3 separate regions of the Homo sapiens genome follow, and all the other regions are reported to be linked to region 1. The links are microRNA targets in miRTarBase. Many come from high-throughput screens and were not tested one by one. Region 1 holds a microRNA gene; each other region holds the end of a gene's coding sequence.
The links. The annotated mature microRNA hsa-miR-6890-3p reads CCACUGCCUAUGCCCCACAG and lies in region 1 at 2,229-2,248, opposite strand. An mRNA with a match to its seed (bases 2 to 7 or 8) in the 3' UTR can be bound and repressed. Matches are read on the target gene's strand: a 7mer-m8 pairs with bases 2 to 8, a 7mer-A1 pairs with bases 2 to 7 and ends in A, and an 8mer does both.

Region 2: the mRNA of PFAS is a reported target of hsa-miR-6890-3p. The part of its 3' UTR that is shown has no 7-base or 8-base seed match.
Region 3: the mRNA of PPP1R14C is a reported target of hsa-miR-6890-3p. Seed matches in the 3' UTR shown: 7mer-A1 at 2,575-2,581.

What each region holds. Positions count from the first base shown.
Region 1 is chr3:49,097,626-49,102,625 of GRCh38, forward strand. MIR6890 (microRNA 6890) reads right to left here and starts at 2,289; the gene lies at 2,229-2,289. It overlaps QARS1 (glutaminyl-tRNA synthetase 1), which reads right to left. Exons shown (of 24, transcript NM_005051.3): 6 at 4,794-4,847; 7 at 4,580-4,640; 8 at 4,203-4,274; 9 at 3,995-4,080; 10 at 3,730-3,816; 11 at 2,950-3,049; 12 at 2,755-2,833; 13 at 2,565-2,673; 14 at 2,336-2,466; 15 at 2,136-2,228; 16 at 1,885-2,022; 17 at 1,719-1,806; 18 at 1,485-1,628; 19 at 1,260-1,364; 4 more. RefSeq lists an enhancer at 2,729-3,229.
Region 2 is chr17:8,267,670-8,275,035 of GRCh38, forward strand. It overlaps PFAS (phosphoribosylformylglycinamidine synthase), which reads left to right. Exons shown (of 28, transcript NM_012393.3): 27 at 864-1,187; 28 at 1,285-2,817. The coding sequence ends at 1,595. Among named protein-coding and RNA genes, the nearest start is that of RANGRF, 17 kb to the right of the region's middle.
Region 3 is chr6:150,247,099-150,254,464 of GRCh38, forward strand. PPP1R14C (protein phosphatase 1 regulatory inhibitor subunit 14C) reads left to right here. Exons shown (of 4, transcript NM_030949.3): 4 at 1,648-3,294. The coding sequence ends at 1,722. Among named protein-coding and RNA genes, the nearest start is that of PPP1R14C, 110 kb to the left of the region's middle.

The DNA.
Region 1 (5,000 bases):
CTCTACTAAAAATACAAAAAATTAGCCGGGTGTGGTGGCAGGCGCCTGTAATCCCAGCTACTCGGGAGGCTGAGGCAGGAGAATCACTTGAACCTGGGAGGCAGAGGTTGCAGTGAGCCGAGATGGTGCCATTGCACTCCAGCCCCGGGCGACAGTGCAAGACTGTCTCAAAAAAAAAGGCAGCCTTCATACAAAATTTTGTGCCTGGAGTTATCCTCAGTGCCAGTTTCCTCACTAGTAGAATATGAATACCAACTCCCTCAGGTGGTGAGGATTAACTAAGGGAATGTATGCAGAGCACTTGGCACAATGAACGGCAGCCACTGTCACTGCTGCAGATGAGGGCAGGTGAGTAAAGTCAAGCACCTTTCCCTGATGGCTGTCTGGATCCACGGAGAAATATCCAAGACGCTCAAACTGGAACTTGTCGAAGGGTTTTGCCAGGGCCACAGAGCAGTCCACTAATGCTGCATCCACCACGTGTAGTGATGCCTGCAGGCAGGGAACTCAGGCAACCATCCAACCAGGGAGGCCTACCTCCCTCACCCCAAACCTCATGAACCTACCAGGTTCAGGTCACTTAAAAATCCACCAGGCACCTCAGTAGGATCTTCAGGGTTCTTGTGCTGGAATCTGCAGCCAAAGTGAAGGTCATACCCCCAGCTGGGCAGCCATAGCAGGCAATGTGCATCTTGTACCTGCCCCCACCCCAGCTCTGTTCACTCACAGTCGCTCATAGAGGCGAACCTCACACATCAAAGGCTGTGACACCCAGTGAATAAAGGCCTTTGGCTTCTCTCCAGCATCTGCCCGTCTGCAGGTCACCTCCAGACTCTCTACACAACCACTGGGGCCCTGGAAGTGGGGGGAGGGGAGCAGCAATTAGACCCGGGAACCACAACCAGGACTGCAGGCTATACTCACATCTTGGCCCCAGCAGGCACTGCAGTAGGAAGGCTGCAGCTGGCTCTCACCTTGACAACATGCTGCAGCTCAATGACGTAGCCTGTATGCCTCAGGCCCACAGGCTGGCCCCAAGCCAGGCGCTTAAATCCTGGCTCTGGCTCCTAGAGATAGGAAGTGGGGTAGACACATGAGGCTGCAAGGGTCAAACAAGTGGGGAAGCTTCCCTACCCCCGTGTCTGGCAAAGATTGGTTCATCTGAAGCAGGAAGTAGATGGACTGACAGAGATGAGGAGATGAAAGGTTCCCAGTACCAGACTCAGCAGCAAACGGGACCCTCCACCCCCACAATTTACCTCCTTGAAGTCAGTCCTCTCAATGAAGACAATGGGTGCAAAGGGAACCTGATGGAAGCCTTTGGTCTCATCAGCTGGGAAGTTGGGCACCTGGATGTCCAAGGACTATAGCAGGAGACAGGAGACAGGTATGAGTCATACTCAGCATTAGGACCCCCATGCCCAGAGCCAAGTGTACCCCCAGCTACACACACACATGTGACACACATGTTGAGGCAGGCCCACCTTGGCAGCAGGAAAGTTGGTGATGATGACCCGTAGTGACTCCAGCACAGCCATGGCTCGTGGGGCTGTGTCATTCAGCACATCACGCACACAGGCTTCTAGAAGATGTGGCTCCATTGTGGTTTGTGCCACAGTCACTCCCACCTGGCAGGAAAGTTCAGCATCAGTCACAGCTACAATCACAAACTGCCACACTCAACCCCCAATGTATCTACCCAACCTGCTGGGCTATACCCGGGCACAGAAGTTGTTGATGGCCTCAGGTGGGAAGCCCCGCCGTCGCAGGGCCGTGAGTGTAAAGAGCCGTGGGTCATCCCAGTCCCTGTGGATAAGAAGGTGGTGAGAAGGCCTTTGGGAGCATATGCCATTAACCTTTCATAAGCCAAACAGCCGCACCTACCGCACAGCACCAGTTGCTACAAGCTGGAGGATCTTCCTCTTAGAGACAACAGCATAGTGCAGGTTGAGGCGGCCATACTCCCACTGCACAGGGCAATAGACGTCCAGTGCATTGCAAAGCCAGAAGTAGGAAGAGCGTCTGGGGTGGGAGAGTAGGGTTAGCACTGGCCAGCTCTGGAACCAGGCAGAGACCACAGGAAGGGCTGCTGGAATTCCACTGGCCCTACCACCCCATGGACCCAGCTCCCTCACCGGGCCTGGAATTCCTTGGTGCAGAGTGAGTGAGTGATGTGCTCGATGGAGTCACAGAGGCAGTGTGTGTAGTCGTAGGTGGGATAGATGCACCTGTGGGGCATAGGCAGTGGGCCCTACCATCCAGCCCTACTCTGCCCTACCCCATGGCCCATCGCCCTGCTCGGCAGCCCCACCACCCCACCCCATTCTACACCCACCATTTGTCCCCTGTGCGGTGGTGTGGTGTATACTTGACTCGATAGGCTACAGGGTCCATCTTGCCATCCTCCATCACCAGCTTCATCCGTAGTGTGGCCTCGCCCTCTGAAAACTTGCCCTTGCGCATTGCCTGAGGGGAACAAGGACTCAGGCTGTCTCTAAGCACAGGAGCATCTCATTCTCAGCACCTTGGCCCACCCAAACCCAGATGCTCCTCTAGGACCCCACCTCAAAGAGCAGCAGTGACTCCTCCATGGGACGGTCTCTCCAGGGTGAAGGCAGAGTATTATGGCCTTTGAGCTCCTCTCCTCGCTGGTGGCACACATAAGCCAGACCCCTGTGGGGAAGCGGTGTGAGTGCCCAGCATGGCTGTGACCTAGTCAGTCTGCCTGGCTCTACGTCATGGCCCTGGCCTTACCTGCGGATGAGCTCCACAGCCCACGCATATAGCTGGTCAAAATAGTCAGACGCATATGTGACTTTGTAAGGTGTGTAGCCTGGGGCAAAATGAAACAAAGTATGAGCAGCCAGCCACAAACACCCAGTGGGCAGGCCATGGCCCAAGGAGAGGCCCACTAACCACCAGCCCTTCTAGGCTTTGCCTAGTCCATACCTAGCCAGGCTACCATGTCACAGATGGCCGTGAAGAACTTTGCTTCCTCCTTCTCAGGGTTGGTGTCATCAAAACGCAGAAAACAGATGCCATTGTTGGCCTAGGAAAGTTGCACCATCTGTGAACTCCCACATCATCCATCAGCCCCACAATCCTGTTTATCAAACTAGGATATTCACAGAGCACTCTCATGTCAGAATTTTCTTTTTTTTTGAGATGGAGTCTTGATTATCTTGCACCATCTTGGCTCACTGCAGCCTCCACCTCCTGGGTTTCTCCTGCCTCAGCTTCCCAGTAGCTGAAACTACAAGCGTGTGCCACCATGGCCAGCTAACTTTTGTATTTTTAGTAGAGATGGGGTTTCACCATGTTGGCCAGATTGGTTTCGAACTCCTGACCTCAAGTGATCCACCCACTTTAGCCTCCCGAAGTGTTGAGATTACAGGCGTGAGCCACCCAACCCGGACTCATGTCAGAATTAAAAATGTCTTCAAGAGCTTCTCTCACCTTCCTGTATCTAACCTAGCATCTTTCTAAGCCTAGGGACTGCACTGGCAACTCCCCCAAATTTGAACTCACTGACTCCTCAGAGGGAGGGAGCTATTTATTCCAATAAGCTCAATAGATTCCTAGGTATCTGTCACACATGTGGTTCCTTTCCATGGCCTCTGCCCACCTGGGTACATTATTGGGAGCAGACAGCAAGGCAGGGATATGGTATCCACTCATGGGAACAGCAAGTGGTCATCTTGCTTGCCAGGTCCCTAGACACATGCTTACCTTGGCATAGCCAAAGTTGAAATTGATGGCTTTGGCATGTCCAATATGCAGGATTCCATTGGGTTCTGGCGGGAACCGGGTACGTACCTAAAATAAGGGGGATGGGAAAAGAGAAATAAAGTCTGAGCTCAGATGACCTTAAAGAAACAGATGTTCCCTCCCAGGAAGGCCATGGTGATGGGTGAGATGGGGCAGTATGGACGCAGCCCAGGCACTCAGGCAGGTGTTTGATGGCACAAGCTCACATGGCCACATCCCCACACACCTGCCCACCAGTAATCTCCAGGTGCTGCTTTAGTAGATTCATGGTGTGTGGAGTGACCACATAGCCTGGGGTCTTGTAGTTCTCACCTGCCAGGACCAGAATAAGCCTAAGGACCAGGCTGCAGCCAAAGCCTCTGACCCCAGGGGCCTGACTATAGGAGCTGCTGCCAAGATCCAGCCCTCCCCAGGGTTTTGACATGCCCACTAACCAGGCTTGTGGAACTTAAGGGCCTCCCCCCGGAGCTGCTCCATCAGAGACAGGGTCTGGTCAGCAGTCTCGCCTGTGGGGAACAAAACAAGGAAAACTTGTCCTCTAGATACATTTACCATATCCTACAGCCAGAACAGAACTGAGTAGACCCCTATTCCCTCAATTCCAGAGACAAGATATCTAGAGCCAGACATCTGAGGCCTCTCATGCCAGTCTCTGGGCAAAGGGAACAAAAGAAACACCAGGAATCCCAGTCTTGAGACAGAAGTCAGGGTACTGAGTAAGCCAAGGGCCTGAGGAGCCTGTAAGGACTCTTCTGAGGAGGTTCAGAAGTCAGGGAGCTGAATGCTGTGACAGGAGTCTCAAGCTTCTCACCATTCTCCACCACATCCTTTGCCGTCCTCCGGTCTGTTTCTTCTAGCCGAGCTTTTGCCACCTGAAAGAAGCCCCAGGTGCTTCAGAAAATGGCATCAAATTTTCTCTTGGATAGGGTCTTGGGATCCCTGTGGTCAGACACTTCCTTCCCCAGCCTGAAGTCTCACCATACCTCACCTCACCCTCAGGGACTCAGGGCCATGCCCATCCCTACCTTGAACTTCTTCTCCAGATCAGCCTCCAACTTGGGGCCCAGAAGGTGGAGGACCTGAGCAGAGACCAGAATCAGGCAGAGGCAGGAGTATCCTCTTTCAAGGAGCCCCTGACTGATCCTACCCACCAACCCAAGGCTTCCTGGCCTATCTACCAGCACTGACTGAAAAAACCTACCTAGCCCATCCCATCTCTTCTCATGTGGGTC
Region 2 (7,366 bases), not on the chromosome of region 1:
GTGTGCAGGCTTCTGCCCACTCCCTTCCCCCACATTCCTGAAGAGGTGCCTTTAGCCCCATCTTCCTGGGCTGGGGATTGGCCTCTCACTCCACCGAGCTACGAGAGAGTGGGCCCATTCGTTCTGGGCCACATGCCAACAGAAGGCTGGTAGTAAATTTTTAATTTTTTCATTGAAAAAAAGTATATATATACACATATGTAATTAAAATATATATTATTAAATATATATTATTTATATATATTATTTATATATTATTAAAATGTATATTATTTATATATTATTAAAATATATATTATTTATATATATTATTTATATATTATTAAAATATATTATTTATATATATTATTTATATATTATTAAAATATGTATATTTTTAAATATATATATATATATATATGTATTTTTTGAGACGGAGTTTCACCCTTGTTGCCCAGGCTGGAGTGCAATGGCGCAATCTTGGCTCACCGCAACCTCCACCTCCTGGGTTCAAGCGATTTTCCTGCCTCATCCTCCCAAGTAGCTGGGATTACAGGCATGCAAAAATACAAAAATTAGCCAGGCGTGCTGGCGGGCGCCTGTAATCCCAGCTACTTGGGAGGCTGAGGCAGGAGAATCGCTTGAACCCAGGAGGCAGAGGTTGTAGTGAGCCGAGATCATGCCACTGTACTCCAGCCTGGGTGACAGAATGAGATTCCATCTCAAAAAAAAAAAAAAAAGAAAGAAGGAAAGGAAGGAAGGAGGGAGGGAGGGAAAAGGAAGAAAGAAAAAAGAAAAGAAACAGAGCAGTTATGCCCCTTCATTCCCAATTCCCTTTTTTGAGGTCCTCCATGTCTCACCCTGACTTCCCTATTCCCTGCTAGGGTGGGCAGCTGCTGTGACCTTTCATCCCAGGGCTGGGGCTGAGCTGAGGCGCTTCCGGAAGCGGCCAGACACCTTCAGCCTGGGCGTGTGTAATGGCTGTCAACTGCTGGCTCTGCTCGGCTGGGTGGGAGGCGACCCCAATGAGGATGCTGCAGAGATGGGCCCTGACTCCCAGCCAGCCCGGCCAGGCCTTCTGCTACGCCACAACCTGTCTGGGCGCTACGAGTCTCGCTGGGCCAGCGTGCGTGTGGGGCCTGGGCCAGCCCTGATGCTGCGAGGGATGGAGGGCGCCGTGCTGCCCGTGTGGAGTGCGCACGGGGAAGGTCAGGCCCAAGGAAGGCTGGGGGAGGGCCCGAGGGTTGGGGGCAAGGGTGGGCATGAAGGACCTTGGCTCTCACTTCCCTCCTCCTTCCATCCCAGGTTACGTAGCATTTTCTTCTCCGGAACTCCAAGCTCAGATTGAGGCCAGGGGCTTGGCTCCACTGCACTGGGCTGATGATGACGGGAACCCCACAGAGCAGTACCCTCTGAATCCCAATGGGTCCCCAGGGGGCGTGGCTGGCATCTGCTCCTGTGATGGCCGCCACCTGGCTGTCATGCCTCACCCTGAGCGGGCCGTTAGGCCTTGGCAGTGGGCATGGCGACCCCCTCCATTTGATACTCTGACCACCTCCCCCTGGCTCCAGCTCTTTATCAATGCCCGAAACTGGACCCTGGAAGGGAGCTGCTGACTGGCCACAGGGGCTCACCTGGGCCCCATGGCTTTTCACCTAAGTGGGTCCTGCCCCCTCCCCCATGACCTTCAGGAGCACCCCATATTATTTCCAAAAATATCTTGGACAGACAAGGACCAAAATGCCAAAATCTCAGCGGACTCGATAATCTGCCTGCTGATGTTCCTTCTGTGGCTGTGTCTATTTTCAGTTCTGCTCTAACATGGCATGCCCTTTCTCAGCCCAGGAAACAGCATGTGGTTCAGAGAAAAGAGCGACAAGGAAAAGTTAGGACTCCTGAGGTCCGAACAGGGGCTTCTGTTGCCCACTTCACAACACCCAGTGATCACCGGTGTGCAATTGCCTCCTTGGCTCTGAGGGATGTTTTGCGCTCCCTTTTCTCATCATTGGGGTTAGCGGGTGCAGACAAATTCAGCAATAGTATGCAGATCAGCCCCTCACCACCTCATTGTTCTCATCTGGAACTGAAACTTTCTGGATTTCTCTTGAAGTGCTACACTGCACTGAATGTAAGGAATTGTTGCTTGTGGAAGTTTCTCAGCGTTTCTGGCTGTCTTAGGGCTGGCCTCAGAACCCAGCATTCCTGTTATTTGCTTCTAAATTAGCAGCTCTCTTTTTTTTTTTTTTTTTGAGGCAGTCTCACTCTGTCACCCAGGCTGGAGTACAATGGCGTGATCTCGGCCCACTGCAACCTCTGCCTCCTGGGTTCAAGCAATTTTCCTGCCTCAGCCTCCCGAGTAGCTGGGAGTACAGGCACACACCACCACACCCAGCTAATTTTTGTATTTTTAGTAGAGATAGGGTTTCACCATGTCTCCCAGGCTGGTCTCAAACTCCTAACCTCAAGTGATTCGCCTGCCTCGGCCTCCCAAAGTGCTGGGATTACAGGTGGGAGCCACTACAGCTGGCCCAGCAGCTCTGTTTCTGATAGAGGTGGTTGGGGCTCTCATCCCTAGATCCTAACCCTTTAGTATGCTGGAATTCTACTCTTCACTTACTGCATTGACTGTTGTTGATTAGTTATTATTGCAAAGCACTGTCACCGGCCTCAGGGAGTTTATGTGTAATAGAATTAAAAATAATAGCTGTGTATAACACTTAGCTCAAGCCACGCATGTGTGAGGCATTTGGTATGTATCTGAATTAATTCTCACTAAAATTCAGCAAAGGACTTGATAGCCCCTCCCCGCCTTTTCAATAAAGGATGAATGAAGGTTGACTGCATTGCCTGGGGTCCACAGATGGTGAGGGGGGCTGGGCGCACCCATACTACATCTGCTTCCCGCCATCCTGCAGTCTTACTTCCTGGAGGCAGTGTGTTGAGACTTTGTGCTGGCAGCTGTCTGTTGCTTCCTTTGCTCACAGGACTGTGGATAGAGGTCCCTTCCTCATGACTGTTCTGTTGTACACCTCAAGTCAGTTGGCTCCCTAGAATGTTCAACATCTTGATAAAAGGAGTTTGCCTGAGAATGGAGACTATAATCCCAGATCCCTGAGGGCTAGGAGAGCTGGGTGGGGGCGCTGAGCACTTCTGTGTGCTCCTGGTAGAGTAGCCACCCTGAGAAAAAACTGATAATAATGAAACAATGTTAAATGATGGCTATGGGGAAAACAACTATTTCAGAGATTTTTCTCATTGCTTTGCAAAGCGACCTACCCTGAGCAGTATGGGACTCCTCCGGATCATTTTTGACATTTGAATGTTCTTTCCTGACCCTTGGAAAGGATATATGTATGTCTTTCAAATTTATAGTATCGAACATACAATTTGGGGGCTGGTACCAAGGGTTAGATATTAAGTTTATTAAGTGCTTGATGCAAAAGTCAAAGGATGGCATGGGAGGTAACCTGGTTGGCTGTGATAAGTAAACTCGTGGATTTTGAAGGGGGAGCAGTTTCTGGTTTGGGTCGCAGTGGCCAAGTAAGACCCACCCTCCTCAGACACTATCAAGACCAAGTCCACTGGCTTTTCATCCGTGTTTTCATCCAGTAACCAAATAACCCTGTCCTTGCTGACCCCCACCCAGCTCCATTCCCACTCACCCACTCCCAAGGGCCCTCTGGTGAACCTTCCAGGCTAGCTCTCTGCTCCCTCCTTGCCTTCATGGAAAACCAGCTATCCTCTGAGAGCCACTTCTGCAGCCCCTCCAAGTGGTGGCTTTTCTTCTCAAACCTCAACCTCACATATCTCATCTTCCCCAGGCTGGGGAGTCGGGGTCCTCGTACCACTGCCAGACTGTTCACCCAGTTCAAAGAAAACCCTGCCCGTTGCAGGCTCATGCCATTCTACTACATCCCTTTCATCCAGTTCTTTGTGTTCTACTGACTTCCCCAGCGCTTCCTTTGGGAGAAGGTGCCAATTCTTCAATAGTTGATTCCTCTCTAGAAATACAATGTTCCTGCCAGGTGCGGTGGCTCATGCCTGTAATTCCAACACTTTGGGAGGCCAAGGCTGGTAGATCACCTGAGTTTGAGACCAGCCTGGCCAACATGGTGAACCCCGTCTCTACTAAAAATACAAAAATTAGCTGGGTGTGGTGGTGTGTGCCAATAATCCCAGCTTCTCGGGAGGCTGAGGCAGAAGAATCGCTTGAACCCAGGAGGCGGAGGTTGCAGTGAGCCGAGATCACGCCACTGCACTTCAGCCTGGGCAACAGAGTCTGTCCCAAAAAAAAAAAAAAAAAGAAAAAGAAAGAAAGAAATAGAATGTTCCAGGGCCGGGCGTGGTGGCTCACACCTGTAATCCCAGCACTTTGGGAGGCCGAGGTGGGCAGATCATGAGGTCAGGAGATCGAGACCATCTTGGCTAACACAGTGAAACCCCGTCTCTACTAAAAGTACAAAAAAAATTAGCCAGGCGAGGTGGCGGGCGCCTGTAGTCCCAGCTACTCGGGAGGCTGAGGCAGGAGAATGGCGTGAACCCGGGAGGCGGAGCTTGCAGTGAGCGGACGTTGCGCCACTGCACTCCAGCCTGGGCGACAGAGTGAGACTGTGTCTCAAAAAAAAAAAAAAGAAATAGAATGTTCCAGTATTTTAGCTGGGGTTGTGGCTGCTGAAAATAAAGATGACATCTCCCAGCTTCCCTCCCAGTTATGATTAAATTGTGGCCAATGGTAGAGAAAATGATGTATACAATTTGCAAGTGTTCTTACAAGAAGGGTACATTTTCCCCTTTATCCATTCTTGCTTCCTATTGTTTGGAATGCAGACACGACAGCTGGAAGTTCAGTAGCCATACTGAAGTAGCTTTGGGAATTGGTACCATGCAGAGCAACAAGATAAGAGGAAGGCTCTTCCTCTTATCTACTTGGGAGGCTAAGGTGGGAGGATCACTTGAGCCCAGGTGGTTGAGGCTGCAGTGAACTGTGATCATACCACTGCACTCCAGCCTGGGCAACAGAGCCAGATCCTGTCTCAAAAAAGAAAAAAAGATCAAAGGAGACTGGTTCTTCCAACACTGAGGAGTGCCATGAGGACAAGATAACACTGAATGTCTTGAGTGTAGGAAATGAACTTGTGTCTTGGTTTTTGCTTTTGTTTTTCATTGAGACAGAGTCTCTCGCTCTGTCTCCCGGGCTGGAATACTGGAGTACAGTGGTGTGATCTCCGCTTGCTGCAACCTCTGCCTCCTGGGTTTAAGCGATCCTCCCACCCCAGCCTTCTGAGTAGCTGGGATTACAGGCACGTGCCACCATGCCCAGCTAATTTTTGTATTTTTAGTAGAGACGGGGTTTCGCCATGTTGGCCAGGCTGTTCTTGAACTCCTGACCTGAAGTGATCTGCCTGCCTCCATCTCCCACAGTGCTGGGATTATAGGCATAAACCAAAGCGCCAGCCTATCTTGTTTAAGCACTATTAATTTTGGTGTTTTCCATCCCTTGTAACTAAACCTTACCCTATTCAACCACTCCTAACTCGCTCTCATTCTTTAAGGGTATTAGGCCCTGGTTCCCTGTCTTGTGCTTCACTTCAGCCCCTTCTGTTATCCTGTATCCATGTCAGTGACCATCCAACACTCTGAACTTTTCTACAGTGACCTTCATTCCACCTCAGCTAACTATCCCACTTGGATTTTATCACCCAGGATCGGCTCTATCTCCAAACTTATTTATTCAGGCGTCCTGTTTCCAACCATAAGGCTCTATCTCCAAACTTATTTATGCAGGTGTCCTGTTTCCTTCCAACTTTTTTTCTTTTTGAGATGGAGTCTCACTCTGTCGCCCAGACTGGAGGGCAGTGGTGCGATCTCAGCTCACTGCAACCTCCACCTCCTGGGTTCAAGCGATTCTCCTGCCTCAGCCTCCCAAGTAGCTGGGATTACAGGCATGTGCCACCATACCTGGCTAGTTTTTGTATTTTTAGTAGAGATGGGGTTTCACCATGTTGGCCAGGATGGTCTCAAACTCCTGACCTCAAGTGATCTACCCACCTTGGCCTCCCAAAGTGCTGGGATGACAGGCATAAGCCACCATGCCTGGCCCTTTCCTTCCATCTTTCTTCTTTATCCACAATACTCTGAGATTTCAAAGTAATTAGGACCTCCAGTGCAATAATTACTTTACCCCAATCCATTGCTCCTTTTCTTCCCTCCTTATCCAGCTTCCAGTAACAGCCTTTCCAAAACCCCTTCACTTGAGCTATGACCTTTTCATCATACCCATTTGGCAAACTCCCAACCTACCTGCTTTCTCTGAGAAAGCCAGACAGAACAGGTTCTCTCATAAGTTCATCATTAACCACGTATGGGGAAACAGGGAATGGGAAGGAAAAATGGAGATGAAAGGTTAATAAGAAAGTGCCCAAGTGGGCCTTTGATGATACAATGTGCCATGAACCCAGGGTCATGATGACCTTAGTTCTCTAAACCTGAGGTCTAAAAGCAAAAACAATTTACAACAACATACACACCTAGTGATCAAGTCCTTCCTTTGGGTTTCAGCTGGGTCAATAGCGCTGCTCAAATCCTTTGTGAGAGGTTATTTCAGTAGCACCACATACCTCCCTTTTCAGCCCAAGTCTCTGTTGTACTTTATTTTTCACCATTGCAATCAATGAACTGTGAACTGTTTTTGTTTAGAGATGGAGTCTACCTCTGTTGCCCAGGCTGTAGTGCACTAGCGTGATCTCAGCTCACCACAACCTCCACCTCCCGGGTTCAAGCAATTCTCCTGCCTCAGCCTCCCGAGTAGCTGGGACTACAGACACGTGCCACCATGTCTGGCTAATTTTTATATTTTTATTTATTTTATTTTATTTTATTATTTTTGAGAGGGAGTCTCTGTCGCCCAAGCTGGAGTGCAGTGGCGCGATAATTTTTATATTTTTAGTAGAGACAGTTTCGCCATGTTGATCAGGATGGTCTTGAACTCCTGACCTCTTGATCTGCCCGCCTCGGCCTCCCAAAGTGCTGGGATTACGGGCGTGAGCTACTGTGCCCGGCCTGAATTGTTTCTTTGATCAAAGATCTGTCTCCCTGTTAGTGTGTAAGTTCCATGGATAGGAGACCCATTTTTGCTCCCCACCGTGTCCTAATACCTAGCACAGTGCCCGGCACCTAGTAGGTGCTCAATAAATATATGCTGAACAAATTAATACATATGAATGTTAAAATTAGTAAGTATTGACATACATTTTTTTCTCTTAATACAAAAGTGAATTAGTGGATTGGGTTCATGGGTGCTTGGACTTTGTACACCCTCTCAAGCATTTCCCCTTTTTACCTCATTTGTCCAGTTAAAGTCACGAGTTCTTGTTATCAGGTCAAATGA
Region 3 (7,366 bases), not on the chromosome of region 1:
ATATTTAGGGTTACTGTGCTTTATAGCCAGAGAGTAGTGCAGGGCTCATTTAGTCTGGGAGCTCATGAGTGAGGATTATAATTGATAAGGGAGATTGAGAGCTGTTTTTCAGATGGCTCCATGGACAGCAAAGTTCCTCGGTGTTTTTGCTCTCAGATAGTCCCTGATGTGCTCAGTTCTGTCACTTACTGACTGTCGCTTGCTGATCAGAAAGTCTGATTGGCTGTTAGCTTTGTATTTGACAAATATAAAACAGGAAGACCAGGTAGTTGTTACCTAATAAATATGACTTATCTGGTGGCCAAACATTTTAAAACAGGAGGCAACAATGAGAGATTCCTGATTGTGTAAAGTGGGAACCATTCTGGATCATTTTTCAGTCTTTAGGTTCTGATCGATTTACAGGTCATGAAATCCTTTTAGTGAGTCTTCCCTAGCATTACTTTGTAAATGAAATTAGAGTAGAATAGAAATACCAGAGTGCATGGCATGTAGTAAGTATCCTGTAAGTTTTAATTTCAGATGTGTGTTTGTAGGTACCGGATTGTAACATAAAGTGTGTTTTTGTTTTGGTGTGGTTTTTTTATCTATAGTTTGCTGTCAAAAAACTTCAAAGACTCTTAGTGTGATCTACACCAGTGGTGTGCAGTATTCTCCAGTGATAAGTAGCATCAGTGTCACCTGGGAGCTTGTCAGAAATGTACCTTATTGGGCCCCACCCAGATCTACTGAATCACAAACACTAGTGGTGGGTCCCAGCACTGTGTGGTCCTTAATGAGTCCCTGTCTTAGTAGTCAATTTTCTGTTGCTGTAAGAGAATATCACAGGCTGGGTATTTTATTATAATAGAGGTTTATTTAGCTCACAGTTCTGGAGGCTGGGAAGTCCAAGAGCATGGCACTGGCATCTGGAGAGGGCCTTTTTGCTGCGTCATGTCATGGTGGAGGTTGTCACATGGTGAGAGGACAAGTGTGTGCCAGCTCAGGACTTTCTTCTTCTTATAAAGTCACCAGTCCCATCTTGGGGGCCCTACTCTGATGACCTTATCTAATCCGAACTACCTCCCAAAGGCCCTACCTCCAAATGCCATCAACATATTAATTTGAGGATTAAGTTTCCAATACATGAAATTTGGAGGACACATTCAAACCATAGCAGTCCCCCTGGTGATTCTGATGCACACTCAAATTTGAGGCACACTAGTCCAGCCTTGCCATTCTTGGTGAGGTTCAAGGACTAACACTGGCATCACCTGTGAGCTAGTTGGAAATGCAGAATCTCAGACCCCAACCTGGACAGGCTCACTCAGAATCTGTGAGATCACCAGTTAATTTATTTGCATGGTAATGTTAAATAGCTCTGATCTCAACACAAATGCCTCAGGGGCCAAGTAGGTCATGTCAGTAGTGAAAGTAGCCTGGTTTCCCCCGTAAAGAAAGTAGAACAATAAGAAGGCATTGTGGTGTGAAGTTTTAGTATTCTTGATTTGTTTTTAAAAATCCTGTATTATACCAGTGGGGGTTAACACATTCAACCAAATTCATCAACTAAGGTTAACTGCAGTTGACATCAATTACTTTAAGCAGATTTTTAAACACAGAATTTTAATAGTGACCCTCATATTAACTTCTTCTGATCTCTTTTAGGAATTTATCAAAGAGCTGCTTTCTCGGATAAGAGGCATGAGGAAACTGAGCCCTCCGCAGAAGAAGAGTGTATGATTCTGGAACAGGGTGAAACTCTCCCAGAGACGAAGAAAGAGTCCTGGGATTTGTACTTCATGAAGACTTTTGTGAAAGAATAGGTGTCCTTATGAACAACGTTTTTGTTTTTTTTTTTTTCTTTTTTGGTGTGAAGGTGGGGGGGTCTATTAGACATTTATTCAAGAGCGTTCTTTTTTTGGTTTTAAAGGTTTTTGTTAATGTAATATTTTAATAGCAAAGATATCATGACTCTAGCCACAGCCTAACCAAGGATTATCAAAGGAGGTGGACACTCAAGGAAGGGCCACGCCAGGCTGCGTTTCCTGCAAGGACTCAGATGTTCAGTACCTTATGATACAGGGAAGATAGTTTTCTTACAAGTAGTTTGGTAATATTTTTTTTCTTAAGTTGTACATTTGACTCAGCTGTCAAATTTCTCACACTTGTATATATCTACACACAACTAAGTTAAAATGTTGATGTGAGTTTTATTTCACATGGATGGAATAAACTTGTGGTTGTCCTTTAACTGGAGGTCCCAGCACATGTGTTTTCAAGAGGCCACTAGGCATTCTTCACTGAGTGCTGCTGACTTCAACGTTCACTTTATGCACCAAAGTGAAAGAATTCAGTGTATCCGTTATTTTAATGCACTACACCACAGAAATGTTAAGTTGGTCAAGGGCTTAATTTATGGAATTTCTATTATTTCATTGGTTGGGATGCTTTGCCAGGTCATGTGCTTATTGTCTCATTTTGTAGTCTTTTAAAGTTGTATGAACCCTTAATTTGAAGAACTAACTTGATTTCTAGAGAAATATCCACACTATCTCAGTGGTATTTTGCATTGGAAAAAGGAAGCACTGTGTAGCAGTGAATTGTCTGCTTTCCACCGAGTACTGTGTTTATTCTCTCTCCAGGAAAGCAGATCAAAAGAAAGTTAGCAGATCGAGTGTCTTCTTCCTTAGAAATAGGTTCTGGTAGCTTCTGTGCCTGGGTAGTATCAGACCAGTGGGAGTAAACCGAGTGTTAAGTGTCAAGGTGAGAAAGCCTCACATTCTCTCAAGACAGTTGCTCTAGGAGCTGAGTTGCTGGTTTGGAAGTGTGGAGATTGCATTTCTGGCTTCTCTCAATGGCTTGTGTTGAGGACTCTGGGTGCTCCTGGCCCTAATTGTGCACCCTGATCCCCGTGCTTGGAGCTAGGCCTGGTGGCGTGCTCTAGCCCTCTCAGTTACCAGCTCTTTGGAGAAGGATCAAAATTCAGATGGAATGTGGGATGGGTAATAGGTGAGAGTAGAAACCCTTCCCTCCAGGAGGCCCCCGCTGACTCCCACAGAAACCCACCTACCATAAGATGTCTTCAGGTGGCCTTGTCCAAGGATGGGGGTCAGGCATTTTATATCAAGGGTGCTCTGAACATATTTTATTTTTTAAAAAAACTATGTTTGTGAATTTTGCGTATACTGGCAAGCTTTTGAAAATGTATTTAATTTTGTATTGTTTACCAATGATTTATTTACAAGATATTTACTCAAATAAATGGAGCTGCTTACAAGCCTGTTGACATGTGTGGCTTGCACAACACGTTAACATGATGGTTTTGCTGTGTCAGTTTCTCTGCAGAGGTGAGGACCAAGCACCTCACCTCGTTTCATTTCATTTTCAAGGATTTCTAGGCATGTAATCCTGGCCCTCTCCTCAGGCATCTTCAGATCAGGTGGTGAAAGCAAAGGAGCTGGGCCACATTCTTGGGCTGAGAAAGAAGACGAGCTCTGTGTGCTCAGCCTGGCACTGTCCTAGGCCATGCTCCTTTCATTTAATTAAAACTCCTCTTTGCCATCTTACAAGAACCCTCAAAAACATTTCAAATTAGTAAACTATTCCACTTGTTAGAATGCCTTGCACCATGGAAGTCGGAAAAATACAGAATGGGCAGGATTTCTGTTAGGCTTAATTGACCAGCCCATGTGATGGTCTCAGATGAAGTAAGAATTGACTTTTCCTCCAAAGGCCTCTGCTCCCACCACACACTTCCTCCCCACCTTCCCTCCTGCCCTGATCCCCGTGAGTGCTTCAGCAAGAAGTTTGGGCCTCTTCCTTGACTCCCCAGTATGCTCCCAGTCACCCAGCTTGTCCTCTGTGAATACTTCTCAAACCTATCCCATGTCCAACTTTCCTGGATTGCTGCCACCACCTTGGGAACAGATTCTCCATGTCCAGGCTTGTCTCCCTCTGATCCATCCTCCACCCAGTTGCTAGAATAGTCTGACGACTCCACCCCCTGCTTGAAACCCGAACCCTCTGCATGCCTTATGAGAAATGTTGTCTCTGCCTCTCCCACCTCATCTTTTGGCCTTGTGCTCATGCCCAGTTCTGCCAAATTCCTTGGAGTTTCTGGCGTGTTCTATGTATTTTCTTCTCTGGTGCTTTGTAAAATCTGTTGCCTTGGCCCAGAACGCCCCCTCTGCCAACAGGCTGTATCCAGAGAGCTGGGTTAGACCCCCTCCTAGGTGTGTTCCCCCTCAGCTCCAGCCTATACTCTGTCATAGACGCATCCACAGTATCATTATTGCCTATCCATTTGTTGGTGTCTTCTGTTAGAATCTGGGATCCTCGAGGCTGGGAATCTGGACTTCACCAAGCATCTGGTCCTAGGCTTGGCCCATCAAAGAGATTGTGTGTTTGCCAGTTGAATGAAAATGACAAAAGATTCAAGAAAACTCCACTGTTTTCTTCCCAGCTAGAGTTGTGGTTCTTAGATCTGAGTGTACATTTGAATCACTGGGAAGCTTTAAAAACAATGGAAGCCTAGGCCTCAGTCAATTCTGACCAGTTAAATCAGCGTCTCCAGGACAAGAGCTGGGGTGTTTGTTTTCAAGCTCTCCAGCTTGCGCATCGCTGGGCCATTGGGTCACTCTTGTGCCATTGGATGGCCAGATGCATTAGCCTGACCTCAGCTCTCCATGTTTATGCTATTACAGCAGGTGGCAGCTGTGGTATTAGCACACTCACTATTTCTCATACAGAGTCTTCTCACTAGGGCAATGGCTCCAAATTATCCAACTTCTAGTGCCGCGCTCACTTGAACATTGGGAAATCTCAATGTAAACTTCATGGAGTGGCTTCCATTTATAACGATCATAATAAAAGCACTGTGCTAAGTGCATGCTTTATCTCATTTAATCCTGACCTTAACCTTATGAGGCAGGTGGCATTCTCATTTTACAGATAAGAAAATAAACTCAGGCTTAGCAGCTTACCTAAGTCCACACAGCTACAACACTGAGATTCAAACCCAAACCTATTTGGCTCCAAAGTCCCATAACCATTAGACTTTCTTGCCACTCTTAGGGAATTACTCTTAGTCCCACTCACAAGAGTGAACCCCAGAAGCCACATTTAAAGTGAGCCAGGTCCCTGAGCTGGCAGGGTAGGGGAGGAGGCCTTGTGGATGGAGGAGATCCCAGCCACCTGTGGGGCTCTTCCTCACTCCTGGGAACTGAGGGACTCCCTGCTCCCCATCTGCAGTGCAGCCAGGCCCTGTGATGCTGGCCCTCCTTATCCAGAGTCCTCTTGCCTTTTCCCCATAACATAAAGCTCCTGGACTTGGGCTTAGCAGCTGAGCAAGGAGTATCCAGCCATCAGTTTCCTGAGAAAGAGCAGCTCAGGACAAGGTGATTTTCAATTCCTGAAACACAGGAATTAAACAGGTTTTTACTTATTTATCACTGACATAGTTTGGATATTTGTCCTCTCCAAATCCCATTTTGAAATTTGATCTCCAGTGTTGGAGGTGAGAGGTGTTTGGGTCATGGGGGCAGACCCCTCATGAATGGCTTGGTGCCATTCTCCTGGGATTGAGTGAGTACTTACTCTTAGTTCCCTCTAGATCTGGTTGTTAAAAAGAGCCTGGCACCTCCTCCCCTCTCTGTCTTACGTCCTCTCTTGCCATGTAACAAGCCGGCTCTCCTTCTGCCGTGATTGGAAACTTCTGAGGTCCTCACCAAAAGAAGATGCTGGTGCCATGCTTCCTATACAGTCTGCAGAAGCACGAGCCAAATAAACCTCTTTTCTGTATAAATTGCCTGCCCTCAAGTACTTCTTTATAGTAACACAAACAGCCTAAGACAATCACCTAAAGTCTCCATAAAAGATTGTGTGCTGTGCAAAATCAGCTTTTGGAAACCTAAGCTGTTTTTGACATGACTGCTGTTTAGCAAGAGAGTGGCAGGTCCACAGCTACTGGACACATCCCCATCCCTACTCAGCCACCCTATTTTTGCCTCTGAGTGAAAGGTTCTGGGGCTTCCCTCTGCTTCCTGGGAACCTTTCCTGGAATCTAGCCACTTTGAGAGTGAGCCTGTGTAGTCATGAGTCATATCTGTCCCTCTATGGCCCCTATCTACTTCCTTTGACTCTTGTCTTTGGGTGCTCAGAGTCAAGGAGTCAGCACGCTTCAGTGCTGCTGCATAGCCTAAGAGAGAAGTGCTGTGGGTGGCAGGGACCCTTGTCTGTTGTCTAAGAAAACAAAACTCCTATCGGGTAGTTGGAACTTTCTGAAAGCCATTTTCAAATTGGACACAAGCATACCACTATTTTCCCCTACTGGTTTCTCTTTGCTTGAATTAATTTTAACCCAAATAGTCCTGGAGAATTATTCCTCAGAACTAGTCTCATTTCCTTGAGGGCTTGGGGTACAACCCACTGTGTGTTTGTAATTTGCCTGTGAAAATGGAGTGGCTTCTCAGTCTTCTATGAGTGAGAAAGAACAGTGCAGGCTTCATGGAGTTCCCACCCAACCCCACTCAGAAACAAATGCTGGAAATGCTTCACTAATAGCCTTCTTGTGCGGCCATGAAGGCCAACCAGTTCTCTCTTGCTGACTGGAACATCTTGCCTGGGGATGGATTGTTCTTTTAAGACTGGATTGTTCTCTGCCTCCCGTGTCTCTGTGGGTGTTCCCATCACAACACATTAGCAGACATTTCAATAAGACTGATACTAGAACAGCTACAAACGAAGTCCTTGAGAAACCTGCTTTTCTGTTGTTTTATTGAGTCAATTGGATAAATAAGGGCAGATTAGTGTCTGGTGTGTGTTTTCTTCATGCTCAGTCTCCTTGGTGGGGTGTAAATGAAACTAGCGGGGTGGGCTTCTTTGGGCTCACCTTGTTCCAGTGGATTCTAGGAGGTAATTAGTTCCAGCAAGCACAGGGGGTAAAGAAGAGTGCATTCTAAACATAGGCGCTGTATAGACTTAATTGTAATTCAGTGTTCAAGTTGTTAGGAGACATTTCTACATGGTTCTCATGTTTCTGCATGTCTTGTGAGTGAGACTGCCTTTGTTCCAGACCCTTTTTTCAAGAACGTTTATATGTATAGCAAACAGTCTTGGAAGTTAGAGATAGTGTCTCCATGCAGAGCAAAGCTGTCTATTATAAAAGATATGGGTTCCCTAAGTGTCGAGCCCCTTTCCTGGGATGCGACCCACTGCATGCACGGGCGTCATCTGTCCTTCTTTGCAACACCCTAGGAGAACTGGGGCTCGAGAAGTGCCACTACTCTAGCCACTGCTATTGCTGTAACTGTCCTTCCTCTCTGACTCAGGAATGTAGCATCTTCTACCAGCATCTATGAAACTGACAGGCTAATTTGTTAGCTTA